Regions from separate parts of the Homo sapiens genome. Here all the other regions are linked to region 1. Evidence: fine-mapped expression QTL. A gene starts in region 1. Each other region holds a variant in brackets. All regions are shown on one strand. Distances are from middle to middle.

Evidence for each region. PIP is the estimated chance that this variant, and not a neighbour inherited with it, causes the effect. A credible set is the group of variants that fine-mapping cannot tell apart.
Region 2: its variant is the best candidate, but not a certain one, in a credible set for the expression of TRIQK in whole blood (INTERVAL, PIP 0.50).
Region 3: its variant is the best candidate, but not a certain one, in a credible set for the expression of TRIQK in whole blood (INTERVAL, PIP 0.89).
Region 4: its variant is the best candidate, but not a certain one, in a credible set for the expression of TRIQK in coronary artery (GTEx, PIP 0.54).

The regions. Positions count from the first base shown.
Region 1 is chr8:92,962,319-92,970,432 of GRCh38, forward strand. TRIQK (triple QxxK/R motif containing) reads right to left here and starts at 3,826. Exons shown (of 5, transcript NM_001171797.2): 1 at 3,689-3,826. RefSeq lists an enhancer at 3,033-3,142 and a silencer at 3,813-3,922.
Region 2 is chr8:92,931,515-92,939,628 of GRCh38, forward strand. All of the region lies in intron 2 of TRIQK (triple QxxK/R motif containing), which reads right to left. Among named protein-coding and RNA genes, the nearest start is that of TRIQK, 31 kb to the right of the region's middle. The variant C/T (reference allele first, on the strand shown) is at 4,347.
Region 3 is chr8:92,913,555-92,921,668 of GRCh38, forward strand. It overlaps TRIQK (triple QxxK/R motif containing), which reads right to left. Exons shown (of 5, transcript NM_001171797.2): 3 at 3,375-3,456. The coding sequence starts at 3,435. Among named protein-coding and RNA genes, the nearest start is that of TRIQK, 49 kb to the right of the region's middle. The variant T/A (reference allele first, on the strand shown) is at 4,288.
Region 4 is chr8:92,600,779-92,608,892 of GRCh38, forward strand. All of the region lies in intron 3 of LOC102724710 (a long non-coding RNA gene), which reads right to left. Among named protein-coding and RNA genes, the nearest start is that of FLJ46284, 180 kb to the right of the region's middle. The variant C/G (reference allele first, on the strand shown) is at 3,777.

The sequences.
Region 1 (8,114 bases):
CAAAAACACAGATACATATGCACAAAGATTAAGGAGAAAGCTGGCTGAGTTTCGCGTTTCTACATAGAAGAATGTCCACTGGAGCAGGGACTCTCAAAAGATGCTTTGGCATTGGAGTGAGACAAAGAAATTCTTTATTGAGCTGATAGATCTCTACATTACACAATATTTATCATCTCTGAACTTCAGGATCCCAAAAGCCAGTAGTACTTCCTTTAAAGAAATTAGAATAATTTTAAAACACCCTGGCATATTTCAAATACCCCAGAGGTGTCACCCAGAATGGAAAACCATTCTGGAAATGGAAAACCAGAGCACTAGATTAACAGTCCTGGCCTCAGATCCCACTTCTTCTTCACAGCTTACCAAAAAGAGACGTATCTGACCGGTTCACATTACTCCACCGGTAGAGCTAACCCATTATAAACCACTAAGCACTGGAGATTTTCCATCTTTTATTAGACCTCTGCCCTACACCATGAAAAGCAGTAATTGTAAGTAAGCGTATCTGTTCCGCAATCTGAAATTTTTCTCTCAGCTGAACTAAAGTCTAGGTTCTGGGAAAGAGAGTAGGAGTAAAAGGGGATAGGAAGTACTAGTACTCATTTTTGGTCTCATTTTTGCATAAAGCACTATCCCCACTCGACTTGTTATTGCAAGTTGAAGTTGATATGGCAGGCGCCACATGTCTGTTTACAAACGCAAGAGAGGAAGGAAAGAGCTATTATTGAGCCCCTAAAAATCTCTAAATCCATTGTAATGCTCTCTCTAAGCCATTTGTCTTTATCCCTGTTTCTCTACCAGAAATGAACAGAGTTGAATAAAGAAAGAGTCAAGTACCAAACAGTTCAAATAAAATTACAAGTACTAACGAAATAACAGGTGCATATATACATTTATGCGTTTTACAAAAGCAATAGCTCTTTACCTCTTCAAGTTTTTCCTTATCCAATAACAACTTTTTATATCTACTACTGATATCCACTTTTATTGATAAAGCTAGATAGGGAATCAGACCAAAGAAAATAATGAACTCTATTTACAGATTTCTATATGAATATAGAAATCAGGAAAAGAGCCACAGTGAAAACAACCACAATTCTTTTTAGCCACAAATTAAAATGTTATAAAAGATTATTCACTTAAGTTTAAAAAAAAAAAAACAGTTCTAAGTATCAAGTAATGATATTCCAGTGGCATGTACTAAAAATAATCAGCTTTTCTTTGTCCAAAACGGACCTCGATAGATGAGAAAGTTTATGGATTTAATGTTCATCTCAAAAGTACAATTTTGGCCAGACGCGGTGGCTCACCCCTGTAATCTCAACACTTTGGGAGGCCGAGGCGGGCGGATCACCTGAGGTTGGGAGTTCGAGACCAGCCTGACCAACATGAAGAAACCCCGTCTGTACTAAAAATACAAAATTAGCCAGGTGTGGTGGTGCACTCCTGTAATCCCAGCTACTCGGGAGGCTGAGGCAGGAGAATTGCTTGAACCAGGAAGGCAGAGGTTGTGGTGAGCTGAGATAGCGCCATTGCACTCCAGCCTGGGCAACAAGAGTGAAACTCCGTCTCAAAAAAAAAAAAAAAATACAGTTTCACATTTTTCTCAAAATATTTGACAATGTTCTTTTTACTTGTTTAAATACCAGAATATGCTTTAAGAGGTTATGATCAAAGGGCATTTGGGATAAAACATAGATTACATGGTTTTGTAAGATAGCAACAAATAACTGAACATTAGTAGTTCCCGTTTGTTAGTGCTCAAAAAAACAAAAAAGTACAATGGGAAAGGGGGCCCCAAAAGGGAACTGCAGATGACTGAAGGCCTTGAACAAAGGTATGTTATGGTAAGAGGCACTGTGGAAGAAAGGCAAAAGCCCCACTCTGCTCCCAGCTATGTAGCCTTGGGTAAAAGTTACTTAGTCTCTCTGTAGGATGAGGCAAGTGGGAGAGAATAATTTCCTTATCCCTAAAGAAGTTGAACAAAAACAGGGTCCATTTAGGCTTAAAATTGTGCATTTTTCTGAGGAGCAAGTCAATAGCTTTCCTTGGTTTCTCAAAGTGGTAAATGACACCAAAAAGGTTAGTCATCCTCGCATTAAAAGGTAATGTTTCCCAATCTTTTCAGGTATATATATATATCTATATATATATATATATCTAGTGATATTAAAGAGGAAAAGGTGTCATTCAAGACATTACAGGTTCTACCTAACCAGAACCAACACAGAATCAATAATGAATAGATGAGTTAATTTCTTCCCCATTTCTAAATAACCCTAAGATTAAAAAAAAAAAAAATCACAAGGGAAATTTGAAAATACTTAAAGCTGAATGGCAATACTTATACGTGTTTATAAATTTGGATCATATACACAAAAAGATTAAAAGTGTAATCAATAATGCTTTACATTTGTGTGGATCATTACTTTAATGATACTTTCACAACCAATTATTCCTCCTTTTTTAGGAAGGAAGGGCATATCCTAGAGTCTCCAATTTACAGATAACGAAACAATTATTGCCCAAGGACAAACATTTCTTAACCATGCCAGTTTCCTGACTTGTAGGCCAATGCTCCTCCCAATGTTAACAAGCAGCACAAGCTTCCTTCCTGGGGGTTTGCACTGTAAACCTGCCAGAGGAAAATAAAAGATTTTTACCTCTTTTGTTTTTTCTCTCTGGAATGTTTGTTGTGCTGAATCATTAGGAGACAGAGTATATGAGCAAACAAAGGCAGATTTAAAATGGTTATCTGAGGTTACCATCTCACACCATACTTGTTGATCATTAAGTATGAGCCGAGTGAAGCAAAAACAGCTCTACAGGTTTAGCACACCTCTCCACAGTAGAGAATGAAAGGGAGATTATACATTGGGGCTCCTCTAGCAATAAATTGCTTCAACTTCTTCAGGAGGCTTATTAAGCTCAAACAAGCAGCAGAGAACTCCAAGTAGAAGAAACCTAATCTCCAATCCCCTTTTCCTAGTCATCCACGCGGACACCAACATCTGATGGATTCAGGAATACACCAAGCTCCAAGAAAAATACCCCCGCCCCACAACCTCACCACCACCGATAAAGCCACCTAATCCTGTCTGAATCTCTTCTCTGCAAATGTTTTGGTATGCAAATACTCGTTCATTAATAAGAGGAAGCAGGAAAAAGAGTGAAGAGGAGTACCATGGGAAAGGGGGCCCCAAAAGGGAACGGCAGAACCCAGAGAGCTGCACTGACAAGTAAGCGACCGCGAGTAATCGGTCAGCACAAAGGAGCCAATCCCGAGCCGCGTGGAAGACCTTGGGAGGTGGGCGGGACTAACGTGTCCAGGGCCCAGCGGCTGGCGCCAGACACGCTGGCAGGGCGGGAACCGCGCGTTCCTTAGCAACCGCAATGGCCACGCCCACCGAACCCAGCACCCTCCATCCCCCATCCCGCAGCCAGCGCCCTACTCAACGGGAACGGGTCCTTCAGTGATCACCGTACCTACTGGGTTTCCCGGACTCCGGGTTTCTCTTGCAGAGCCTCCCTCCGCCCAGCCCCACCAAGTGCCGCTCCCAGGGACGGAACGATCGTCTCCCAAACGCTTTAGGGCTCGCTAAAGAGGTGCGCCCGCTTTCATTCCCGGACCCCGAGCTTCCCGGGCAGGGTCTCCCCAATCCCCTCGCACTCGCCGGACACACACCTCAGCTCTGCCAAGGCAAGGGCCGACAAACTTCGTGTCCTGTGGGAAATGTTGCTGTCCACGGTTCTGTCACTCAGGGGCAGGGGCGGGACAAGCCAGCCGCACACCCCTACTCCCAAAGGGTGAGGCGGAAAAGAGGCGAGGCTCTGCCCCCAGGGGCGGGACCAGGCCTCAGCCTGCTCTCGGATTGGTCGGCCTTTCTCCCGTCTGTACGCCGGTCCAGGACGCAAAGGCGCTGGCCCTGAGGCCTTTCCCTCATTTTGATGCCACTCCGGAGTTCTAATACCTGTCTCACGAGGTGACTGTAGAAATTAAAAATAAAGACTGTGACTTGTTTAGTTAATATAAAACGGAAAAATATGTTATTTTGATTATTGAACCCTCCCATCTCACACACACACACTCCCCAATTCACAGGATCATCCCTAAGGAGCGTCCCTAAGTGGAAGGGCGCACTGTCTGTGTAAACAATCAATTAATTGCCCATTCAAACAGCAAAAAAGAAAAAAAAATCGTTTTATATTAACATTAACCAGAGATTAATAAATTTAGGAAAGATTGCAAAAACGTGACTGACAATTAGGATTTAGGAGCCTATGTTCGGGTACTCAATTTTCACATCTACAAAATGGGAATGAAATATTAAGATGTTACTTATTGGAAAAGTATTCAAATATTAAATGCTTTATAAATTATACTCATGTAATCCTTACAAAACCCACTAAGAGTATTATCCACAGCCTATGGACAATGAAACACAGGCTAGGAAAGGCTAGATTTATTCAACCATTCAACAAATCTAAGTGCCTGCAGCCATCATTTTTTAATATTGTGGTGAACTAAATCTAAAATTCCTTCAAAAAATTATGCAACCTCCAATTTAATTTTTCTCTTGCTCACATAAAAGTCACCTTCCTCTAGGCCAGCCCCATCATATCTTTTTCCAAAAGCCCTTGAGAAAGAAAGTAGCATACAAAAAAAAAAAAAAAAAAAAAACTGAGACAAGTATAAATAGACTAACCAGAAGGCTTTCTGAAATCTCACAGAATATTATGGCCAGGAATTGAATCCAAAATGTAATTTTATTTTCCGTCCTCCTAAATCATTTTCTGGTCTCCAGTTCCTCTCCCAGAAATAAAGGTAGAGTTAAATGAGATTATATTAATACACTTAACCAGATTACTTATGTGTGTGGCTTTAAAATAGTGAAACTCTTTTTCCTTCCATATTAAACCAAAACCCAGAAGGGTTTATCTTGTCTGATAGATACGGTTGTAGTAAGAAAAAAGAAAAAAAAAAAGAGTACCTCTGGACAAGTGCCTTGAGATTCAATTAAAATGTTCATCGTACTGTGATGCAATTGTTGGAATAAAAGAAACCCATTCCAATTACAAATAATTTTACACTCTTGACCTGCTGAATATCCAAATTCTTCTGAAAGCTTGCTAAATGTGAATAACTCTCTATAAAACTTTCTTGATTTGTATGACTCAGAGTCCCCATTTTCTTTAATCTTTTAAAAATATTTGGTTTGGCCAGGTGTGGTGGTTCATGCCTGTAATCCCAGCACTTTGGGAAGCTGAGGTGGACGGATTGCCTGAGGTCAGGAGTTCCAGACCAGCCTGGCCAACATGGTGAAACCCCGTCTCTACTAAAAATACAAAAATTAGGCAGGCATGGTGGCAGGCACCTGTAATCCCAGCTACTCAGGAGCCTGAGGCAGGAGAATTGCTTGAGCCCGGGAGGCAGAGGTTGCAGTGAGCCGAGATTGCATCATTGCACTCCAGCCTGGGCAACTGAGTGGGACTCCATCTCAAAAAAAAAAAAAAAAAAAAATTAGTTTTAGACTAAAAAGAAAGAGTTATGATTATATATTAATAAATATATAAATAAATGCTGTAAGATTTAAATAAAAGTGGTGAATGTACTTGAGTCCATTTTCATTACATAAAGATGTACAGCAATGCATTTGTACAGCAAATGCATTGAATATTCTCACATATGTAAGATATTATACAACAAGAAGTAAATAGCTTAATGTAAAATTAAAACTTCCAGATGTATGTTATATGCTTATTTCTTTACCATATAAAGACATATATTATTGACTTACATTTCTAGCAAATTGAAATATAATTGGCTGCATAGTATTCTATGGTGTATATGTGCCACATTTTCTTTATCCAGTCTATTATTGATGGGCATTTGGGTTGGTTCCAAGTCTTTGCTATTGTGAATAGTGCTGCAATAAACATACGTTGGCATGTGTCTTTATAGTAGCATGATTTATAATCCTTTGGGCATATACCCAGTAATGGAATTCCTGGGTCAAATGGCGTTTCTGGTTCTAGATCCTTGAGGAATCACCACACTGTCTTCTACAATGGTTGAACTAATTGACACTCCCACCAACAGTGTAAAAGCATTCCTATTTCTCCACATCCTCTCCAGCATCTGTTGTTTCCTGCCTTTTTAATGATCACCATTCTAACTAGCATGAGATGGTATCTCATTGTGGTTTTGATTTGCATTTCTGTAATGACCAGTGATAATGAGCTTTTTTTATATGCTTATTGGACGCATAAATGTATTCTTTTGAAAAGTGTCTGTTCATATCCTTCACCCACTTTTTGATGCGGTTGTTTGTTTTTTTCTTGTAAATTTGTTTAAGTTCCTTGTAGATTCTGGATATTAGCCCTTTGTCAGATGGATAGATTGCAAAAGGTTTCTCCCATTCTGTAGGTTGCCTGTTTACTCTAATGATAATTTCTTCAGCTATACAGAAGCTCTTCAGTTTAATTAGATCCCATTTGTCAATTTTGGCTTTTGTTGCAACTGCTTTTGGAATTTTAGTTATAAGTCTCTGCCCATGCTTATGTCCCGAATGATATTGCCTAGGTTTTCTTCTAGGGATTTTATGGTTTTAGGTCTTACGTTTAAGTCTTTCATTCATCTTGAGTTAATATTTATATAAGGTATAAGGAAGGGGTCCAGTTTCAGTTTCCTGCATATAGCTAGCCAGTTTTCCCAACACCATTTATTAAATAGGGAATCCTTTCCCCATTGCTTGTTTTTGTCAGGTTTGTCAAAGATCAGATGGTTGTAGGTGTGTGGTGTTATTTGTGAGGCCTCAGTTCTGTTCCACTGGTCTATATATCTGTTTTGGTACCAGTACCATGCTGTTTTGGTTACTGTAGTATAGATTGAAGTCAGGTAACATGATGCCCCTCTTTGTTCTTTTTGCTTAGGATTTTCTTGGCTATATGGGCTCTTTTTTGGTTACATATTTAGAATTATGTTTCTGTGTTTCCAAGTATTTGAGAGTTGTCTAATATCTTACAGTTATTGACTTTTAATTCCATTGTAGTTAGAAAATATATATTGTAATATTTCAAATTTTATTGAAAATTATTGACACATATATTATAACCCAACATATGGTTTATCTTTATGACTGTTCTCAGTGTATTTGGAAAAAAAATGTGTATTCTGAAATTATGGAATGCAGTATGCTCTAAATGTTGATTATAGTCTATATCTTATGACAGTTTTTTTTTTTTGCTTTTAAAAACATTTTATTTATTTATTTTATTTTTTCATTTTACTTTAAGTTCTAGGATACATGTGCAGAATGTGCAGATTTGTTACTTAGGTATACATATGCCATAGTGATCCTTACCAACATTTTTAAGCATATTCTATCACTTATTGAAAGAAAGGTGTTAAATCTCCAACTATGCTTGTGCATTTGTTTATATTTTCTTTTTTTAAAAAAAATTAATTTTTTTTAAATTTTAGGTTCCAGGATACATTTGCAGAATATGTGGGTTTGTTACACAGGTAAACTTGTGCCATGCTGGTTTGCTGCACCTATCAACCCATCCCTTAGATATTAAGCCCAGCATGCATTAGTTATTTATCCTGATGCTCTCCCTCTCCAAATCCTCCCCTAGCAGGTCCCTGTGTATGTTGTTCCCCTCCCTGTGTCCATGTGTTCTCATTGTTCAGCTCCCACTTATAAGTGAGAATATTCAGTGTTTGGTTTTCTGTTCTTACATTAGTTTGCCGAGGGTAATGGCTTCTGGCTCCATTCACGTTCCTGCAAAGGACATGATCTCATTCCTTTTTATGGCTGCATAGTATTCCATGGTGTATATGTACCACATTTTCTTTATCCAGTCTATCATTGATGGGCATTTGGGTTGATTCTATGTCTTTGCTATGGTGCATAGTGCTGCAATGAACATGCGCATGCATGTATCTTTATAATAGAATGATTTGTATTCCTTTGGGTATATACCAAGCAATGGGATTGCTGAGTGGAATGGTGGTTCTGCAGTTCTGCTTCTAGGTCTTTAAGGAATTGCCACACTGTCTTCCACAATGGTTGAACTAATTTACATTTCCACCAACAGTGTAAAAGTGT
Region 2 (8,114 bases), 31 kb before region 1:
AAGTTTGGGAAATAGAGGCCTAGATTATTGGAAAGCTAATTAAAATGGATCATAACAGAACAAAATAAGCATTTTGGTTAACGAATAAAAGATATCAAGAACTGGCTAAGAGACATGCTTATCAATCATTTCCCCAGCTTGTGATAAAGGAATATCCTGTCATCAGAGACCTATAATAGGATGACCATATAACTTACCATCCAAGCCAGAACACTTTTGAGAGTCAAAGAGGGCCCCATTCATTACAGCAAGATAAACTTAAACCAGGACCATCCAGGACAGCCCTTGCCCCAACTATGAAGCACACAAGGACAGTTTACCATACACCATAGCTCAGTTAGTTTTATCACCCATAAGGTGTTGCGGTACCAGGAAAGAATGGCAAGTCTTCTTTTAAAATACTGCATTTCAGAAAACAGATTAATATTTTAGGCAATACCTGAAACAGATATGAGAATATCACAATAGTAGGTTATGCTGAGATAGACTGTCCTTATTTACAAAATCATCCTCTGGCACATGGCACTACTGAATACTCTGTCGTCAAACTTCAAGCCGTCAGCTTCCAAGTCAGCACTTTCCTGATTCTCCTTCTACATTTCAATTTCTTCTTTACCTCTTTCATTAGCATTCTTCCTCTAGGTGCCTATGAAACTATGGCGTTTGTGTTCCCGTGTTCCCCATAATTCATTCACTTTATATATTACGCCCTCCTTGGGTACCTCATTCCCTCAAATATATTCCAAGGTCCTATATAACTACCCCTAACTTCTTCAATCATACATCTAGCATCATTCTAACAAAGCATAATCAATGTGAATTTCTTATTTTTCCTTTAACTAGCAAGTTTCTCCTGTTTTCTACCTTTTTTGTTTGTTTTAACTAAACTGACCAATACAGTGTTCTCATTGCATGCTATCCTCTTTTGACAGTGTTAACTTGGATCACTTGATTAAGGTGGTACCTGCCTAATTTCTCCACTGAGAGAGAATTTAGTCTTTTCCCCTTTGTAATTAATAAGTATTTGGTGTGGAGGTGCTTTGAAACTATGTAAATATCCTATTCATCAAATTTACCACTACTTGGTTAGCATTTATTGATGTTTCTCGGTTGAATTAATTATATTCTGACAGGTGCCATGTGATGATTTTATAATTTCCTCATTTCTTCCATATTTATTCGTTAGTATCCTACTTTATTAAAAAGCATTTCCTTCTCTCCATTTATTTATTCATATATGCGTTTATAGCAGTATGTACTCATAGATATTTTTATTCAATTAGTTAGAATTAATGTATATCATTTTTAAAATTTTGATTCCCAAATTGTCCTGGATTTGGCCAGTGAAAGTTCCTTCAAGGTGGTTTGTGTCCTTTTGGCATATCACCTTTTTTAAGAACCTCTTTATTTTCTGACACACAGATATTTACGGTTTAGCGTGTGTTTTCCCTGCTCCTGCCCTGGGACCTGCCATTTCTCTAAGGGCCCACTTCCCCTTTAGTAGAGAATGTTTTTTAGAAAGCAAGATCTGGGGACAAGATATGCTCATTTCTAATAAACTGATACTGTTCACAGGCCTTCTAAGGAGAGAGAGCTAGGAAATATATGTATTGGTGTGAGCTCAGTACTTCCAATTTCCAATCCAACATCACACAGCTCTCATTCTACTACGCCCTTTCCACATTTATATTCATAGCTTTCCTCTCTAACATTAGGAAACCTGTCAGACATTATTATCAATGAAAGTTTTCATGTTTAATTTTTTGTATAATATTTTACAAAACAATTAATACCTAATATTTCTAAAATTTGTGAGTCACCTATGAAACAAAGGATAAGAACCGATTTGAATTAAATCTACAGAATAAATAACCTGTGCTCATATAGACCAACTTGGTGATAATGGTAATATCAAATATTAAATACCCCATAGAGGTCTATCACCTTATTTTACACCTTATAGACATATGCTCCACGCTATGGCAAGGAAAATGAGACTGTGCTTAAACCAACCACACCTACTGCTGAAGCTGGCCATGGGGTCTGTTTCTCCTAAACATATGACTGTCTGCAAAATGGGTAGATAAAAGAATAAAACCAGTGTTCTTTGAAGATAAGGCATAAAGATTCTAGATAGAAAACTAAAAGCATCAGTCCTATGTGTAGCCACATACTGTATGTTTACATGGGTATTTATACATTTAAAAATATAGCTTGTCTATATCAGATTGCTAACATTCAAGATATATATTGTGAAATCATGTTTCTGTATATTGATTCATCACTTAATCTAAGGTTTAAACACAATGATTCTCACACTTCTGACTATAAAGTACACAGATAACATATCACTCACTGAATCTCCTTGATCTATTTTAGCGGCAAGCATCACTTATGCTAATTTTTAGTCATTTCTATGTGTATTATCAATTTCAAGTAATTAGGTTTCCAAATTCAACAAAAAAATCCTTAAGTGACTAGGGAAAGTCACTCAGTTCCACACAGAGAGAGCAGGAGAGAAAGTGTGAAAGAAATAAAAACCTCTATTATTTTTGTAATGGTGGCTATTTCAATGGTGAACTGAAAAAGCAAGTTCTAGTTTGGTACATGGATAGTTTCCAAAAGACGTTCAATGATTATCCCTTGACTAAATAAAGAATAGTAGGGAAATGTACCAGACAAGAAGGCATAAAACCTTAGCCACATCTTTTCAATGAAAGACTAGATGACATTGACAAAGTCAATCAGTTTCCCTTCTTACACAATTGCTAAACTCTCTTCCAGTTTAAAAAACATAGAATACATAAGCATATGTATCAGGCTAAGGGTAATTATTTTCATGCCGAGAAACACATCCTTAAATATTAAGACAGAACTAACAATAAGTACATAACTTTTAAGCATATATATCTTAAAACTAATGGAAATTATGTGTACTGAAATAAGCTTAAGTATATAAGAGGAAACAAAGAGCTCAAGACAACAATAACAAGGCCCTTTATGGAAATTTTGCTTCCAATGTAATAGCTTCAAAATGCTGTATGACTTATTTAAAAGAGCTTTATTAGTAATTAAATGTCAAAAGTATAAAAACAACTGGTCTATATCCAATTTCATAGAAGTTGTACTAAACGCATTCATTATATCGAAGTCCCAGGTGATTATAGCATTAGCACTTTGTTAGTATTTGCAGACTGCTAGTTTTCAAACAGATTGTGGTATTATAACATGTATTTATCAGCTATGATGCAAATTATGCTTTTAAAATACCACCGAATTTTTCCACTAGAGAAATACAATAAAGATTTTTGAGCTTAAAAAATTGAGAAAACAACATGGAAAAAGGTTAATGGAAATAAGCACTAGGCTATTAGCTAATATAACTCTACTATGTAGAAACAAATAAATAAGTAAAAATAGATGGAATAGTACAATACGAAAAAGCATAAGTAGATTTCCTGTTACAATGGATTGATGGAGAAAAGAATTTCCCAAGTTAAACTGTAATACAAACAAAAAACCAGAAGTTCTACTTTGTGCCAGCTTTTTATCTTCCATCTCCTATTCCCTAATTCCCACTCTATCAAATCTGTAATGCCTTTCATAAGGTATTTCATTTAAAAAGATGTCAAAGTTCTGCTTGATAGTTAATTGTCGGCCTTTTTAAGAGTATTCAGTCTCACAAAAAATAACAAAGAAAAGCTAGCAAATGAAAATACGAAAAATATACTTTTGAATAAACTGTTCAAGATAATAAAAGATTCCAACTTGATCAATGTTGTGAACTACAAATATTAAAACACTTCAACAGCAAATGTTTAGAAATTATTGCTAAAATAAAATAATCAGGGTTTTGGTTAAAAGCGTGTTCATTCTGTGAAAATTCACCGTCTACATATTCTGTTTTGTGCACGTTCCTTTATGTACAGTATTATGCATCAACAGAAAGTTTTGAAAAATTAGTAATGTAGCTAAAGTGATAAGTAAGCACAAATTAGAAAAGACAAAAGATTGAAAAATAATGAACCAAAAAGGAAATAATAGAAAAAGAATAAAGCCCTTCAAATTACAAAAAGTCATAAACTAAAAGCAATAAATAATTAAATTTAAAAAACAGAGTCAAAAGGGATGATCAACATAGACAAAAACTGAGCCTTTGAAAAATAATAACATGGAACAAACTCTTGTCCTGACGGAATAAGAAAAAAATACACAAACAGTATTAGATATTTAAAAAAAGACTCAATATTCAGCAGAGATTAACATTATATAACAAGAAGATTCTATTAAAAATGCCATATCAATAAATTTAAAAATTAAAACACATTTCTTAAAAAACAGACTTA[C/T]CAATAGCAGCTGAAGAAGGTAGAGATCAAATAGAATAAAATTCAGTGGAACTATAATTTTTTAAGTCAATCAATGTTTAAAAATCTACCCTTAAAAAATAAGACATACACACACAAAACAGGTAAGATTAAATGGTCAACAAGGAAGTTTTATTAACCATTCAAGGAACACATAATCCCTACAACAAGCTTTATCAGGTATATAAAATATTAAACTATTTTGAAGCCTAAAAATTGGCACACTTCTCAACTCATTTCATAAGGCTAATAGAATCTTGAAATGAGAACAAGGCAAGATCATTATGAGAATGAAAAATTACAAGCCAATCTTATTTATGAACAAAGATACAAAAATCCTAAACATAATATTAGACAACCAAATCCAGTATGTATAATCATAATGATAAAATATTCCATGATGAAGCTGGGCTAATCACAAAAATGAAAGGGCAATTTAACATTAGATATTATCTTAGTAGTATTCTTGTTAACTGATTAAAGGAGGAAAATACTGACAGACCTCAATCAATACAGAAAAATAAAAGTTACATTCAATACCCATTCATTATTACAGGGGGAGAGAGAAGGAAGAAAGATAGAGGATGAACAGAGGGAGGCAGGAAGGAGAAAGCAAGGAATTTAGTATATAGAAATAGAAAAGAACTTTTTACCCTGTTGATACATAGGCAAACAAACAAAGCAAAGATTATCCTAAATAGAGAAAAATTAAAAGTTCTCTTTTAAAAATCATAAGCAAGACAAAGACATTGCAGTGAGACATCCAGATAGCACAGTAAGACAAAAGGGGAAAGAGCATAGGGGATTGGAAAGGAAAAAGAAAACATTATGATTCACAAATAATATGACTCCCAGGTGGCAAAGTGGAGAGAAACTACAGACAAATATTTGAATCTGTATGAAATTATTTGTAAGAGCTCAGCCAGGTTATGATATATAAAGTTTATATATAAAATTCTAATTTAGTATAGCAACAAAATCTATAAAGCAGCTATAAATACTATGGAATACCTCTAAAAGTATATGCATGACTACTTATTGAACTGTTATAGGAGCTCAGATTATTACAATAAGTTAAGAAGAGTAATTAATAAAATATTTGAGGGAGCAATGTGGCAATACCCAGTAAAATTAAAGATTATGTACCTACAAGAACCATTAATCAACTGCTAGTTATATGAACTAGGGAAACAATTCTATATGTGCACAAAAACACTAGTAAGTACACTCACTGAAAATGTTTTTAATAACAGCAAAAAAGGAAAATAAAACTCTGTATGTCTACATAATTTATTCATAAGTGAAATATAAAGCAGTTAAAATGTGTGAACAAAGACACATGTATTTATACACTTACAAAACAACTTAAAACATGAAAAATCAATAGTCAATATTATTTAGGGAAAAATATACCTATACCAACACACACACACACATGCACCCAAATGATAAACGCCAAATTCTGTGGTTATATAGCAGGAATGAGGAAGTACAATTAAGATCGCTTGCACAGGGTTATTTATTTAATCAGATTTCTTGACAGTATATTGCTGGGTCTTGCTTGTTTTACCCAGTTGAAAACATGTGTTTTAAATGTACAATTAAGATCATTTTATTTAATGTAATTAAATATGTTTGCATTTATATCCCTCATCCTACAATTTATTTTCTATTTGTCCCATCTGCTGTTACCTCATCTTCTTTGTTTTTTTTTTTTACTTGCTTCTTTGGGATTAATTGAGCATTTTTTAGTATTTTATTCCATCTTCACTTTTATTAGTCATTCCTCTGTTTTACATTTTTAGCAGTTACTAGAATTTATAATACATATTATGTAACCTTTCATAATCTATCTTCAAATAATATTATACTACTCTACATATTATATAAGATCTTGCAAAAGTAAACTTCCAATCTCAACCCTCTATCCTTTGGGATATTATTGTCATATGTTTCACATCTATGTTTTTATCAATATAAACCATTGATAATATTTTTGCAGTAAAGAGTCAACATATCTTTTTCAAAACCTTAAAAATGATAAAAATGCCTTTTGTATTTACCTACATATTTACTATTTCCAATACTCTTTGTTCCTTGTGTGATGTTTCATTTTCCTTTTTTCTGAAGAATTCCATTAACATTACTTGCAGTGCAAGTCTTTGGGCAACAAATTCTCTCAGCTTTTGTTTAGAGACAAAAACTTTTATTTTGTCTTTAATTTTTGAAGAATATTTTTCTTCAAATAGAATTCTAGGGTTCTAGGGTCACAACTATTCTTACAGTACTTGAAAGCTAACACTCCTTTGTCTACCAACTGGGATAGTTTTGTGGAACAGTCTTCAAACTTATCTTTAGGTTTACCTTTTTATATTTTAAAATTTTTAATTGAGATATATATATATATTCGAGGTGTACAACATGATTGGATATATGTATACAATTTGTAATGATTATTACAATCAAATTAACTAACACATCCATCACCAACCATTTTAAATTTGTCTTTAGTTTATATTCCTCACCCATACTTGCTACTTTTAATGATTTTTGCATTATTGTTTTCACCAATTTAATTTTGATGTGCTTTGGTGTCTGTGTGTCTACTATTATACTGGTCAGACTTCTCTGAGCTTCTTAGATGTATCGTTTTGTAATTTTCATCAAATTTGGAAAAACTTCTGACATGATTTCTTGAAATACTTTTTATTTCTTCCCCTGCCCCTGCCACTATTCTGAGACTACATCTACACATATATGAGACCATGTATTGTCTCATAACTAACCGAGGCACTGTTGATTTTTGTTGGGAGGGGCAATTATTCACTCTGCCTTTCATTTTGGATCAATGTTACTGCAATATCTTCAAGCACACTGAACTTGTCTTCTGCAGTGTCCTATCTGCTGTTAATACCATAAAGTGAAAGTTGTGACTCAAAAATTATACTTTTCACCACTAGAAGTTCCTTTGATTCTTTCTAATATCTTCTATATTCCTCTTATGTTAAGGTTTTTCTTTAAATATTTAAAAATATAATAACTGATTACATTTTTTGCTGGTAGTTCCACCAAATCTATCATTTATAGATCTATTTCTATTGACTGTTTTTCTCTTGGTTATAAATCACACTTTCCTGCTCTGTGGCATGACTAGTAATTTTTACCAGATAATGGAACTGCAATTGTTACATTGTTTAATGTCTAAATGTTATTTTACTCTTTTAAAACAATTGGGGCTTTTTGTTGAGAGGAGAAAGAGAGTTAAAATCAGTATGGTCAGGTTTTACTTAAGTTTTTTCTAGGTTGCATCTAAGCAACCTTTAATCTAGGTATAGATCAGCCTACTTCTAAAACATTATCCCCAGTGGGGTCTCAACTAAATGCCCTGGTTGATTATGAAGACGTGCCATTCTGAGTGGTCCAAACCTTAATATCTCCCCACTCTGTGTGAGCTCACAGAATTGTTTTATTTGTGAATTTGAGAGAAGCAAAGGGGATAGAATGGCTTGACCCAGCAGGGTAAACAGCAGCTCCACACAGCCAAAATGCCTACCCAATGACTCCATAAGGCAGGAAGACTCCCAGCTTCATGGATGTCAGAGACATGAAGGGATATCAGAGAAGGAAAGAAGCCACACTGGCTTTGCCCAGGAAGGTAAGCAATGGCTCCACACAACCAAAAAGCTCACCCTACAACCTCCCCAGGCAAAGAGATGTCCTCCTCCACAGATCTCAGAGAAGCAAAGGGGC
Region 3 (8,114 bases), 49 kb before region 1:
TTGTGGTGATTCCTCAAGGATCTAGAACCAAAAATACCATTTGACCAAGCAATTCCATTACTGGGTATATACCCAAAGGATTATAAATCATTCTACTATAAAGACACATCCACACTTATGTTTACTGAAGCACTATTTAAAATAGCAAAGACTTGGAACCAACCCCAATGCCCATCAATGATAGACTGGATAATGAAAATGTGGCACATATACACCATGGAATACTATGCAGCCATAAAAAATAATGAGTTCATGTCCTTTGCAGGGACATGGATGAAGCTGGAAACCATCTTTCTCAGCAAACTAACACAGGAACAGAAAACCAAACACCGCATGTTCTCATGCATAAGTGGGGGTTGAACATTGAGAACATACGAGCACAGGGAAGGGAACATCACACAACAGGGCCTGTCAGGGGGTGGGGTGTAAGGGAAAGGATAGCATTAGGAGAAATACCTAATATAGATGACGGGTTGATGGGTGCAGCAAACCACCATGGGACATGTATACCTACGTAACAAACCTGCACGTTCTGCACATGTATCCTAGAACTTAAGGTATAACAAAAAATAAAATTCAGCACCATTTCATGATAAAAATTCTCAATAAATTAGGTATAGAATGAATATCTCCCTTCTTTTTTTCTAGTACTTTTATGTCTTATATTTGCCTTTTAGGTATAGAATGAATGTCCCCCTTCTTTTTTTCTAGTAGTTTTATGTCTTATATTTGCCTTTAATTCATTTTTATTTCTTGACATTGGTCTTGGCTATGATTTCTTGGATGTAACACTAAAGAACATGCAACTGAAGCAAAAACAAACAAAGGAGACTAAATTAAACTAAAAATCTTCTGCATGGCATAAGGAGCAATGAACAAAATAAAAAGGTAATCTACAAAATGGGAGAAAATATTTGTACACCATGTACTTGAGAAACAGTTAAGTCAAATTATATAAGGAACTTATATTTTACAATAGTAAAAAAGACAACTTGATTGAACATACCTGACTAGAAAATGGTCAAAAGGTCTGAATAGACATTTCTCCAAAGAAAATGGAGAAAATGACAAACAGGTACATGGAAAAGTCCTCAACCTCCCTAATTATCAGAGAAGTGCTAATCCAACCACAATAAGATAATGTCTCACACGTGTTAGGATGACTATGTTAAAAAAACGTAATAAATGTTAGTGAGGATACAGAAAAGACAGAATCCTTGTATATTCTTAGTAGAAATGGAAAAAAATAGTATGGAGATTCCTCTAAAAATCAGAAATATAACTACTATATGACCCAGCAATCTCTCTCCTAGGTATATACCCAAAGAAAATAAAATCTCCACATTTTAGAGATACCATGTTCACTGCAGCATTATTCACAATAGCCAAGATATGGAAACAACCTAAGTGTCCACAGACAGATGACGGAATCAAGAAATTATTTTATACATATATAAAAATATATTTCACCCTTTAAAAAGGAGGTCCTGCCATTTGGGAAAACATGGATGAAATTGGAGGACATTATGCTAAGTGAAGTAGGCCAGACAAAGAAAGAAAAATACTGCATGATCTCTCTTATCTTTTCAATCTTAAAAAACGGATGTCAAATATGTAGAAAAGGAGAGTGGAATGGTGTTAGCAGAGTTGGAGGGAAGGGGAAATGCAGAGATGTAGGTCAAGGGTATAAAGTTGCAATTATGTAGGATGAATAAACTATAGATCTAATATACCACATGAGAACTACAGTTAATAATATTGTATTGTACACTGGATATTTGCTGAGAGTAGATTTTAGGACTCTTACCACACACAGAAAAGGTACTATGTGAGATGATGCATATTTTAATTGGTTTGACTGTAGTAATCATTTACTCTGTGTGTGTATAGCAAAAAGTGATGTTGTACACCTTAAATACGTACTATAAACATTCTTTTTTTTTTTTTGAGATGGAGTCCCACTCTGTCACCCAGGCTGTAGTGCAGTAACATGATCTCTGCTCACTGCAAGCTCTGCCTCCCGGGTTCCCGGGTTCACGCCATTCTCCTGGCTCAGCCTCCCAGGTAGCTGGGACTACAGGCGCCCATCACGACGCCCGGCTAATTTTTTTTTTTTTTGTATTTTTAGTAGAGACAGGGTTTCACCATGTTAGCCAGGATGGTCTCGATCTCCTGACCTTGTGATCCACCTGCCTCGGCCTCCCAAAGTGCTGGGATTACTGGCGTTAAGTCACCGCGCCCGGCCTGTACTATACAAATTCTTAATTGGCTATATGTATTCCAAATATTTTTTACTTTGTTTGCATGTCTTTTGTTTTTCAGAAATATATTTTGCTTTATAGAGCGTACTTTTTGTGTCTTATTTATGAAATAGATATATACTATATTTTGGTATCAATTATTTATATTTATTTTCTGACTTCTAATGTAACTTCTTTGTTTATCCTTTAGTTATTTAGAAGTGTTATTTTTATTAATTTATTTTGTATTTCCAAAGCAATGGTACAGATGGAAAAAAGTGCACTAAAGGAGAGGGTTGGGTGAAGAAGGGGAAGTTACCTTTTTGCTTCTAACTAATTTCTAATTTACTACATTTGATTTAAAAATGCAGTTATAGGATATTGATTGTTTATAACTTGGGATACTTTCTTTGTGACTTAGTATGTAGGTAGGTAATTTTTTAGAAATACTCCATGTATCCTTGAAAAGAAAATCCTGCACCTAGAGCCTAATTTAAAATAGATAAGCTTCCTGTTATCTTCCTGTGCTAAGTGAGCTTTTCTAGTCCACCGTTCTACTAGGGTAGTATCTCCTTGAGGGTCCAAGTATATTTGGGAGTCTCAATTCCATCTACAAATCCTTATTTCCAGTCTTCCTTAATCCTTCTTTCACATATGACCTCTGGAGAATTCTCTTTCTTTTTTTCTGAACTCAGGTTTCCATATAAAAGAACATTTGTTCTACTTTATTTAGCATATTTTACAGGAGAATTTTGAAGTTATCAAATTATTGCCAATAAGAGTCAACAGAATTAAAAGTTATAATATGTATACAAAGGAATGATTTAATGGATTATAAAATCAAAAATGCTGATTATATAAAAGCATTCAGCCTAAAGAATAATATTTATTTTTTGTTTTATTAAATTAATTAAAATTATAAGAGCACTGAAAAATCGTAAGTACATGAAGTTCATATCTTTACTGGTAAGCAGGACTGCATTTAATTTTGCTTCCATAAAACTCTATAAAGTCCTTTTTCACTCACATATTTCTGTGTATCATATGTATTAGAGAAAATTTATTTTCTTAATATGCATAATTGTGTTTTTATCTCAATTAATAGGAGTGTATCAAAGATAATTCATTGCTTACCAATTTGTTTTCTGTACTGATCAACAGGAAGTTTTATAGTAGCAGCATCTTTTCTACCCATCTTTGATCTCCAAAATGCCTGCTGAAAAGAAAACAATTATAATGAAAATTTTTTTAAAAAGGAGTGTCTATAAAATCCAGAAATAGTTTATTCTATAAAATTCATTTTTAAAGCAATGGGTACAAATACTTTGACTTATTTCCATTAAATATTCATAAAGAAAACAAAATTCTTTTAAATAAATTATCAATGATACAATTGCTGGTAATTAAATTTCTCAATCATTTGTTTTTGATAACATTCATCTTATCAAGTACTATCAGTGTTCCATTAAACCATATTGTTAAATAACATTATCTGTAAATATGAAAATCATGTAGTATTTACTTAGATAGGTTGGGGCTTTTGGCATACTTTTGGCAACATGCTTATTTCCAAGTATATATAGTTTGGATATATACTTACTATGTTACATTAAAAGTAAGGCTAAAGTTTGAATCTCAAGTATTTTGTATTTTATTTTAAAAAGCATAACATATACATACAAAGCAGATGAATTTCAGTTCTAGTTCTGCCCCTCTTAATGTAAACAATAAAAACTACTACCATTTATTAATATTTTCATGCTTATTACCTTATATGCACTGTTCGATTTAATCTACCTATTTTTATTGATATACAATAGTTGTACCTACTTTGGGTGGATATATGTAATATTTTGATACCTGTATACAATGAGTAATGACCAGTTCAGAATAATTGGGATATCCATCACCTTATTTACATGTTCTTTGTGTTGGGAGCAAAACAAAACTTCTCTTCTAAGTATTTAGAAATACATAATAAATTATTGTTAATCATAATTTTCCTACTGTACTATTGAATACTAGAAATTATTCCTTCTACTCTAAC[T/A]GTATTTTTGTATCCCTTAACCAACTTCTCTACCCTCTACCCACTTCCCATCCCTGGCTCTGGTAGCCATTATTCTACTCTCTACCTCCATGAGATCCACTTTTTCAGCTCTCACAAATGAGTGAGAAAAAGCAATATTTGTCTTTCTGTGCCTGGCTTATTTCTCTTAACATAATGACCTTCAGTTCCATCCATGTTGCTGCAAATGGCAGCGTTTCATTTATAAGGCTGAATAATATTCCACTGTGTATAGAGACAACATTTTTGCTATCCATTCATCTACTGATGGATGCTAAGGTTGATTCCATATCTTCGTTATTGTGAATAATGCTGCAATAAACATGAGAGTTCAGATATGTCTTCCATATACTGATTTCCTTTTTTTGGATATATACCCAGGAGTAGGATATCTGGATCATATGGTAGTTCTATTTTTAGTTTATTGAGGAACCTCCATATTGTTTTCCATAATGGTGTACCAATTTACATTTTCACCCACAGTGTATGACCATTTCCTTTTTTCTCCACATCCCCACCAACACTTGTTATTTTTTGCCTTTCTGATAGCAGCCACTGTAACTAGGATGAGATGATATCTCACTGTGCTTTCAATTTGGATTTCCCTAATGATTAGTGATGTTGAGAATGTTTTTCAAATACCTGTTGGCCATTTGTATCTTCTTTTGAAAAATGTCTATTCAGATCTTTTGCCCATTTTTAATTGAATTGTGTTTTGCTATTGAGTTGTTTGAGCTCCTTATATATTCTGGGTATTAATCCTTTGTTGGATGAATATTTTGCAAATACTTTCTCATATTTTGTAAGTTGTCTCTTCACTTTGTTGATTGTTTTCTTTGCTGTGAAGAAGCTCTCTAGCTTGATGTAATCCTATGTGTCTATTTTTGATTTTGTTGCCTGGGCTTTTGAGATCTTACCCCCCCCCACAATTTTTGCCAGACCAATGTCCTGTAGTGTTTTCCCAATGTTTTTTTCCAGTCATTTCATAGTTTTATGTCTTACATTTAAGTCTTTAATCCATTTTGAGTTGATTTTTGTATATGATGAAAGATAGAGAATCTACTTTCATTCTTCTGCATATAGAAACCAGTTTTCCCAGGACCATTTATTAAAGAGACAATCGTTTCCCACATTGTAACTTCATAGTACTTTTATAAAAAATGAGTAGACTCTAAGTGTGTGGATTTAGTTCCGGGTTCTCTGTTCTATTCTATTGATCTATGTGTCTATTTTTATGCCAGTACCCAATTGTTTCGTTACTATAAATTTGTAGTATAATTTGAAATCAGATAGTGTGATTCTCTGGCTTTTTTCTTTTTGCTCAGAACTGCTTCAGCTATTGGGGATCTTCTGGGGTTCCATGTGAATTTTAGGATTGTTCTTTAGGATTTTTGTGGAGAATGTCATTGGTATTTTGATAGAGATTGCATTAAATCAGTAGATCACTTTGGGTAGTAGAGAAATTTTAACAAGATTAATTTTATCATGAAGGAATGTTAAATTTTGTTGAATACTTTTTCAGCATCTACTGAAATAATCGTATGGTGTTTATTCTTGATTCTGCTGTTGTGATACATCATGTTTATTGATATGTGTATGTTGAACCATCCCTGCATCACTGGCGTGATCCAACTTGATCATGATGCATTATCTTTTGAACGTGTTGCTGAATTTGGTTTGTAGTGTTTTGTTGAGATTTTTACATCTATGTTCATCAGCGATATTACCTTGTAGTATTCCTTTTTTTTATTGTGTTCTTGTCTAGTTTTGGTATCAGAGTAATGCCAGCCTTGTAAAATGAGTTTGGCAGTATTCCCTCCTCTTCAATGTTTTGAAATAGTTTTAGTAGAAATGGGATTAGTTCTTTAACTGTTTGGTAGAAGTCAGCAATGAATCTATCAGGTCCTGGACTTTTCTTTGATGGAAGATTTTTTATTCCTGCTTCAAACTCATGATTCATTTTTGGTCTGTTCAACTATTCTGTCTTGTCATGTTTAATCTTGATAGGTTTTATATGCCCAGGAATGTATTCTTTTCTTCTAGATTTTGCAATTTGTTGGTATATAGTTGTTCTTAGTAGTCGCTAATGATCTTTTGCATTTCTGTGGTATCAGTTGTAATGTTTCTTTTTTGTTTCCCATTTTATTTGAGTTTTCTCCTTTTTTTCCTTGGGCAAGCAAAGGTTTGTTAATTCTACTTATCTTTTCAAAAAACAACTTTTTGTTTTGTTGATTTTTTTTGTATTTTTTTGTCACAATTAAAATTTATTTCTGCTCTATAAGTTTTATGATTTTTATTGAATTTAAATATTGCAGCAGAGAGTACAACCTGATTACCACATTCATATTCTCCTTTTCTTCCTAGCACAGACTCTATTTCCTAGCCTCAATTACAATATGTCATTATTCATAGAATACAATGTTACAGTCGTAAGTATTCTTCAAACTGGTGTCTGCAAGTTGTTCCTCATTCCTTCTAGTAAGGCATTACAAGATGAAGATGAAGTCAGACAAGAACTAGTCATGTCACAAGCAAAAATATAGAGAATAGAAAGTCCAGTAATTTGGGGCTAAAAATGTTGGAAAAGCCAACTTCTTCTGAGAACCAACAGGAGAAAAATGAAAACAGGCTTTGAAGAACAAAGACCCATGAAAACTTATCAGCTTAAAAAAAAAGAAAAAAAAAAGAGAGAGAGAGACAAAGAGCAGATTAGGGGTTTTCACTGTCTCACCTGAGCCTATTATTTCAGATTACTTCAAAGCAGACACTATTGGGTAGAAAAAGAGAAGTCAAGGAGTTCTAAAGCACAGAAAGAAAGTGGACATGAGAATTAGGTCTAGGAAAGAAATTGCACTGTGTTTATTGGCACATGCAACTGAGTAGAAATGGTAAGAAGGTTACTAAAATGTGAGGGAACTATATTTACTAAGAAACCAGAAACATAATCTAAAAAAGTCTTTGAATGAAAGCCAACTTTTGGGCCTCTACATTTAAACCAATATACAGCAGTACCCAAGGAAGGCAAACTCTATAGAGTTTATAACATCCACTTCACACATGACTAGAAAGGAATAACCATCCAGAGGGGAGAGCCATGAAGAATGGACAAAAAGACCATAAACTGAAACTTCTATTTCAGTATAGTGGATCTTCTCAGTGGTCTCGTGAGCAGAGGTTTTATCATCACAATGGACCAATGACTCCTGTGGCTGTTTTCCATTCTTCCCTTTATAAATGGGAATGATTATTGCAGGTATAAAGCAGTTATCCACTGCTTAATCATTATTTCTTAGGGGTTTTGTGATGCTGGGGAGGAGTAGAAAAATGTCACAGGCAAATTGAGAGAGGACTGTGTGTTAGCTTGAGATCCTTGGCTTGGAGCTAGAAGCAATAAATGCTAGATGTTTAGGTTCTCTCTATTGGGGAGACAGAAAAAAATAATGTGCATAGTTATTTCCGTGCCAGAAAGATAAATTATTAAAAAAACTGTTGGCTACTCACTAAAATACATGTTCTCCTTTTTTTTTCCTCTGGGTACTCTTGACTAATTTCCCAGCCTCCTTTGATGTTAGTTGTGGACACATCACTTATTTTCAACCAACAGAATGTGAGTAAATTAATGTTTCCTACTTCTAGAACTGACCTATAAAAACGTTCCTTGCATACTCATTTATCTGGATGAAATGGAGATGACCTCTAGGGTAACTCTGAACATGAGTGATGAAGATGATGACAGCCTGGATCATGAATGACTGCATGGAGGACAGCTATCCAACCAACTTGTTTTTCTGTTTCATATTGCTGTGATA
Region 4 (8,114 bases), 360 kb before region 1:
CCAGTTAAAAGGTGGCAATTTGTTATAGCATCCCTGGAAACTAATAAAAACTGAAATTAAAACCTAGGACTGCCTGGCTTTTAGGAGTTTATACTGTTACCAGAATTCTACATTGAACAAAAGCTACTTGAAAACTAGATTTTAGATGACTATAGAGGAGAGAATTGAGTAGTCACTGAAATTATCATAGAAGCTTTATGACAGAAACAACCATTCTGATGCAAGCTGATCCCAGCAAGAAGTATGAAAAAGCCTTTAGTGCAGAACAAGAACAAAAAATACAATACAAAAAGAACAATACAAAAAAAATAATGACCAAGGGTTTTCCGCAAGTTTGTTAGTCAAGAGAAATTGGAATTTAGCATCAGAAAACACTTCAGCGACATTATTACTTGTGATGCACGTATGTTGTTCTTGAGTGAACAAGTATAATCAGAAATAAATATGCTTAACTATTTAATTAATATTATACTATGAGTTTAGGTTATAGGCTAACATGTTCATTGTCTTTTCAAAGTTCTGAATATAAACACTTACCTTTAGGAAATTTAACAGGTATTAGGTTAATCCTATACCAAATACTTCATACGTTATCTCAGTCTTTGTGAGACAGCAAGCACGCTTCCCATTTTCAAAAATGAGAAAGCTGTGCAGGACCATCAACTGCTTATGTAGCACCTTTGTATAAATTACAAATGCATGTGCCAGGACAGATGGCTTAGCAAGAGCAGCAAGGGGTTTAGTTCAGCTCCACTTGGTCCCCTGGCTGTGTCTACAAACTCCTGTGCAGAGCAGGAGCCTCACAGCTGAAGCCCAGAGAAGCTAGGTAACAGTGCTCAGATCCAACCCTCAGTAAATGTGTATGCTGTGGCTTCAGTCCATTTATCTCTGACTTTAAATTCCATATTTTCATGAGCACATAGTGACATCTTCAAGTAGCTTCAGATTTTACTACCGAAAGGTATTCAAACCGATAAATGCAAGTGACAACTGCAGTTGATATGCTGTGCCAGTCAAGAGAGTAAACCTTCTGAAAAATGATGCCAGAAGAGAGGCTCACCTTCCCCCAGGTGGTCAGAATCAGTGATATAATTTGCAGGGCCCTGTACAAAATAAAAATGTGGGGCCATTGTTTAAAAATCATTAAAAATTTCAACAGGGCAACAGCAGAGCCTTAAAGTAAGCCTGGAGTCCTTCTAAGTGTGGGGCCCTGGGGGACTGCTAAGGTGGCTGCCCAGGAATCCGGCCCTGCAGGTGGGCCATATGAAGCCTAGCATCTGGCTTGCAGAATAGCAATAAAAGAGATGCTGGTAGAAAAGATCTCCTACTAGGATCAGCGCTTTTACCTCTGTAGCTTCTTGTGCTTACTGAGGCTCTAGCAGTACTAATAAGTTAGGTCAAGTTATACTTTCTTAAGTAGGAAGGATCTTTAATGTCTTACTCTCAGTTCTTATACAAGTAGACCACCTCACTTTGCTGGGTGGATCTCCACTTTACCTTAAGGTCAGGGAACAGAAATTCAAGCGCTTCAGTGACAGTATTTTACTGCAATCGTATCTTAGTGAAATACATAAGAAGAAACCCAACAGATTTATGTTTAAGTATTAGATCCAAACTGGCATCAGTGACAACAATGCCTCGGATTTGAAGAATAGTGGAATAGGAAGGGGGGATATTAAATTCTACTGCTCCAGAAGAGGCCAGAACCTTGATTTAAATATACCATTTGAAGTCTCAGAAACACCGCATTTTGGTTTCTGTAAGATGTTAGCTACATTTGAATTGTTGTTTAGATCAGTGTTTCCTAAAGCGTGTACAACTGAAATAACTGAAAGACGTGAAAAGGTAATTGCATGAAAATAGCTTTTTGGCCAGATACAGAAGTTGTGTGCGCAGAAGAGTGTTTTACTAAAGGATGTTTCTGAGTCTTTCACGTACTCCTGTGCTGGCGCAGAGTATGGCACATGACTTTAGCATGGAGCATCTTGAGGGACCATGTTCCGTGAAACACACTTTATGAAGTGCTGTTTTATGTGACACTATATTGTAGGCAGCATGCCAAAGAGGGCATTTTCAAGCTTCATAAGTCCAGGCACACTTGTTTAAGAGCTTTCTTACCTAGGACCTTATGATTTGGCCATTCTTAGCTCATTACTTCCCCTCCCCAAGTCCCAGGCAGAGGTTAGTACACCTGTTCTCACAGTGTCCTGGCATTTGGTGCTCACTGTTCACCTGAGGAGCAGATTATGACTGTGAAGATCGAAAACATTCTCAGCTAATCTTCGCTGTGGGGTTAATACTGTTGTGGGGATCTTTTTACAGTTTATGCTGACGTGCCCTGCTCAAAGATCCATCTAACACTCGAAATGAGGCTCCCTGAGTCTACACCCCAGAACCCGCCATTGCTGTCAGAGCTGGCAATGTGCCTGGCTGCTCTTGTGTGGCCCAAGGCAAGTCACTGCATTCACTAAGACAAGTGGCTGCTGTGTTCTTCCTAATTTTAAATATGCCCACAGAGAAGAGAGGGACTCACAGTTTGAAAGATAACTATTTAGTTTGCATCAAGAGCAACTGAGTTTTCCGTTCCACTACACTTGAAAAACCCACCGGGCTGTTAAAATCAGCAGTCAACAAGCAAGCACCAAACCATCCTACACACTTAGAGCTCTGAGACTGGGTGAGATTCTCTGGGAAGGCTGTGTGTCCACCTTGGACATCTACGTCCCCAGGAGGCCAGCAATAAGACAGATAAACATCAAGTGTGGTCTCTGAATGGACTAATCACTTTTGACAATGTGTGCATTTTTATACAGAGGGATGATGAAATCACAAGTGTGTGTTTACTAGTATCTGCGCTATGCAAAGAAACAACCAGAAAGTTCAACACGTAAGGTCCAAACTAAGTTTTCCTTCTTCACCTCAATCAAAAATTACTTTACAGATTGTTTGAATAATATCTCCAACTCCTTAATCTTTTCAAAGGAAAGCAGCAAAAATTCAACCAAAGAATAAAATCTTCCTAAATAAAGAATAGAATCTTCAGGAAGAATAAAATCTTATTTAAAGAACCTGATTTTTGCTAGCATTGGTTTGACTATGAAGAGCCACACTTCCAATGATTTCTGAACAGCAGATATCAGCTGTTTTACATTTTAACTAACTTGCCACTCTGGCCACTGTTGAAAATTCTGTAGGAATTAAATGCCCGGTTTTGCAAGATACACATTTCTTACTGAAACAGCCTATTATTCATTGTACACATATATTACGCCTCTATTTGCTGCCAAGTTTTATGGGATTAAATAGAGAACACAACAGGTAAGAGCCCCAAACTCATGCTACTGATTCGCATCTCTGAAGTTGTTTGCTGCAGGGTCTGACTGTGAAGGAGCTGTAATCACAGTGGCCACCAGCCTCTGATATTCTTCCTCTGCTGTTCTTAATGTTCTCCCCACATCCTCAAAGCATCATGGCTTACATCCCTGTTCACTGGCTTAAGTCTTCCCCAATCCTTCAGCAAATTATGATCAAGGTGGGTGTATATAAATGGTTCTTAGTATTCTTCCTGCTATGGCTGGAGTTATTTTAGGAGCTTGTGGTGCTTTTAAGATCAAGGACTTTGACCCTGGTCCTGTCTGGCTTCTTGCTCCCACTCAGGCACAGGATATAGTCTTTTTAAAAAATAAGTAACCTGCTTGGTGCAGTGGCTCATGCCTATAATTCCAGCACTTTGGGAGGCCATTGTGAGAGGATTGCTTGAGGCTAGGAGTTTGGGA[C/G]CAGTCTGGGCAACATGGTGAGATCCCATACAAAAATAAAAATAAAAAATTAGCCTGGCATGGTGGCATGCGCCTGTTGTCCCAGCTACTTGGGAGGCTGAAGTGAGAGGGTGGCTTGAACTGGGGAGGTCTGGACTGCAGTGAGCCGTGATTGCACCACAAACTCCAGCCTGGGCAACACAGTGAAACCCTCTCTTCACAAAATAATATAAAATAAAATAAATAAAATAAAATAAGTAACCCCTAGGTTCCTGGACTACCCCCATAAGTCATTCTTCTTCCTCTCATGTTAATTCACCCTGTTTTATCTGTTCACCTTCCTCTTTAGTTCAGATCTGTTAGGTTACCCAGCTTAGTAACTCCTTCCCCTAGAAGGTAGGTTAAACGTGGCCCTACTGTGTTTGCTCCCCACTTGGCAGGCATAAGGTTGTACACTGACAGCTGGGGCTGGAGTGGCAGCCAGCCTGTTACAACTATGTTCCTGAATCCTTTACAGAGATGAGCATGAAACACATGGAAATGGAAATGAGGCAATCTAGTTTGGAAAAAATAGATTTGAATTGAGGGTAGAAAAATGAGAAAATTGGAGTTCCAGTCCCTGTTTGATACCACAGAGCTGTAGAACCCCAGGAGACAGTTCTGTGACTAATTTTCTTCAACTGTAAAAATAACAGTGTAGGAGAAATAATTCTTAAGTCTCAAAATCCCTGGCTTTAAATAGGGTTAATGGTCAGGATTAGTAAAACGGTATGGGGCATGACCTTCTTTTATGTGACATAAGAAACTTGGTAATCATAGCAAAAAAAAAAAAAAAAATACACAAAATTTTTAAACAACCCAACCCTTTTGAGATGGAGTTAATAGGTGAAGTTGCAACTTCTAGTGACCTCAAGCACATTTTTCCTTCTCTACCTTCGAGTAGATAGAGGTCTAAAGTGAGTTAATCCCTGACTGCACATAGCTGTTCAACGCAGATGCTCTGGAGTCGGGCCTACTTGGTTTAAAGAACTGGCACATAGGCCTGTGCCTGGCACATAGTAGACTTTCAATAAACATGTGTTTAAATAATGTTGAATCAGTAAGCACTGCCTCTGCTCTCTTCCAGTTGTAAATCGCTTAGCCTCTAGGTGACTTGATTTCTTTACTGATAACAGTGCCCGCCCTATAAACTGGTAAGAATGCGATGAGATAATTCAGGCAGAGCACTGCACACAGCCAATGCCTGCTGAAGGTTAGTTGTTACTGTGGCAAAGGGATTTGTCTCAAGGATTCTCTAGGCTCTTTTCATCCGACCATTTTCAGCCCATCAAACAACTTTCCCAGACAGCAGTAAATGCAGGCCAAGGTCTTTGCTTAAAGTGAAAATCTCTGGCCTTGATGAGAGAAGCTGTCAAGTCCTGAAAAGCCTGCCACTTCCTCACTTCACTTCAGGTTCCGTGCCCCTTTGTCTCTTTTTTCACTGCATAATATTCAGATCAAAGCATTCTTGCCCTGCTTATCCTCTAAAGCACATCATATCAGTAGGTTAATAGTTGAAGGTCGCCAGCCTCCATCTCTCTGCACCTTGTTGCGGCCAGGCTTCGTAGCAGCCAAGGCCCCAGCTGGCGCGGGGGAGCTGCAGCAAGCACACTGTTTGTGTGCCCAGCAGATGTAAAAAGCTTGGTGCAGTGATCTGGGTGCACCTGTTGGTTTGTCACCATCTGTTAGCCAAAATGTTAAAAAGCCACACCCTCGGACAGCCAGCTGAGGAGAACTTAATCTCTTCCCTCCCAGGCCTCCAAATACAGGCTGCCGATCACATCTTACAAAAGAAGAGAGCCAAACACAAAGAAGAAACTGTCTGAACCCTGCCTAGAGGGAAACCTAATCTTCTGCCCTGGCTGGGTTTTGTTTTTTACGCTAACAAAAAAAGGGATTCTAAAACAAATCTAGCTAGATATTACCTGACAAGAAATCCTGTTATAAACAACTGCCAATTTTTTTTAAAGGAAGATATTAGTTGAACATGGATACTAGTATTAAATGAATTAAGCAGTAATGGTATTTTGGATGACTACTTAGTGAGGTGGAAAATGATGAGGGAGCTAACGTGTGCCTCCTCTGAGGGAGATAGAATTGGATTCTTAGAAGTAAAATGCCTCCAGGGCCAGCACAGGATAAAGAATTAGATGAGTTTAGGCCTTGGAGTTCCAAAGATCAGAGCAACATTCCTCTAAGGAAGACACAGAAATTTGTATGACCTTTATCAAAGCATGGACAGCCTTCACCCACTCGTGCCTCTCTCTCCCTGCTGCCCACATCTTCACCACACAGAACAAAGTCTCCCATTCCACAAGGGTCAAGGATCACACAAGCTAATTGCATTTAGCTGGTGGGTATAATTTCAGAGCTAGGTACCTCTCCCTTCAGCCAGACATAAGATACAAATTTTTAAAAGCAATTCAAGAGGGCAGGGATCTTTTATTCAATGACCAGACCAAATCTCATTGAAATTAAATATTCAACTAGAATATGCATGCAGCAACTTTCTTGAATATATACCCAGGATAAGTCAGAGCAAATGTTAGCGTTCATTCTTGTCTTTATTGAGAATAAATAGGGAAAAAGAAACTGGTTTCCATCCAAAGTTGTAAAATAAGGAAGATGTACTTTGTAATTTAAGACTTTAAAAAGAGTTTTAAGTTAGAAATGATTTCATGTAGCTAACGAGTTTGGTTTTTTAAATTTATTTTTTAGACAATTTTAAAACACATCGGTCAAATCTTTTATGTGGCCCCATACATTTTATACTGATTTTCCACCCCCCCTTTTTTTTATTTAACCAAACTATCATTCAACCTAATCCTTAAGGAATATTGAATAGAATTAACACCTTTATACCAATCCCATTAGTGTACTGTTAAATTAATGGGTTCATTTCTGCCCTCAAGCAAGATTTGGATTATAATCTTGAGACAAGCTACCTTGAGGCAGTAGGCAATCACTTTAAAAACCTGAAAGCAGGCAACATATGGCACACTACACAATATAAAAGTGTTTGAGAGGTACAAGTTTCCACCCTTCATGATACATGCCCAGTTTTAAATAAAACATAGCGTCATCTGGTTCACGCTTAAACACTGAAATTGAAATTATTGGCCATACTGTCATTTTCAAAACAATAGCTAACGGTTTGCACATGTGCTGTTTACAGATCCAAGCCTGTAAACACAGTCACCAACCACAACTTTGCAAAGGTAAATGACAGCTTGAAAAATTTCAAGTCTCCAGAACTCCTGGGATTTTCTCGTTTTCCCCCTTTCATTCATTCTTTCTTCCTACCCCACCCCCAATCCACTCATAGACACAACAGATCCTCCTCTGCCTGCGCAGGCGTAACTTCCTCGCCATATCACCCCTCCCCCCACGACACATTTTCCTGCTGTTGAGACCAGCTGGGCTGTATTAGTCATGCTGAAGCACGTCATGTAACACAGCAAAATATCAGGCAGCCCAGTGTCATGGGAAAAGTGAATCTACTTCATTATCTACCTAGGCAAAGGAAACAGAACTATCACTTCAATGGGCCTGGTCTTCCCTTCTGTGTTGTTAATGTATATTCTATTAATATCATTGATGATATTCCAAGGTCTTGGTGTAAATGAACATGGTGCAGAAGGGAAGCATCAATGGTAATACTGTGGGGTAATACCTATGCTCTGGGGCCTTTTTTTATCCTTTTCTTCACATACAAATTCCATAAATGTTAAAGGATTTTGATTTACATAAAGAGAAAAGAGGGATACTGTTATCAAAATAGAAACAGGCTGTCCCAAAGAGAGTCATTCTGTGACCCAGAACATAATAGTATGATAAGATGTTGCTTTGGAAATTTGCAGGGAAAAACAATGTGTTATACAGCTCTGCTTCCCAAACTTCAAAGTACTTTCAAATCACATGGACAGCCTATTGAAAATGTTTTCTTCTGATTCAGAGGCCTGAGAGCCTATATTTTTCACAAGCTCCCGGTTAATACTGATACTGCTGGTCCCCAGATCCCACTTTGATTTGCAAGGTTGTATAGAAAGGACAACATTTAGGACAATTCAAAGATTACATTTTTTTAGAACTACCAAGTACTGACATCAATCGAAAACTAATCTAAAGGAGTCGGGAAACATCACTGAGACCTAAATGATGATGAAGGGAAATGGCCATCACATTATCTCTGGGGAATGTATTGCTGGGCATAGCAAGAAAGACCTGGGGAACAGGCACCAGCAAGAGACAAAGAGGATGCTTAGGTTATGTTTAAAATTTTTTATTCTTAAAGATCTAGACAGGTCTGGAAACCCTCAA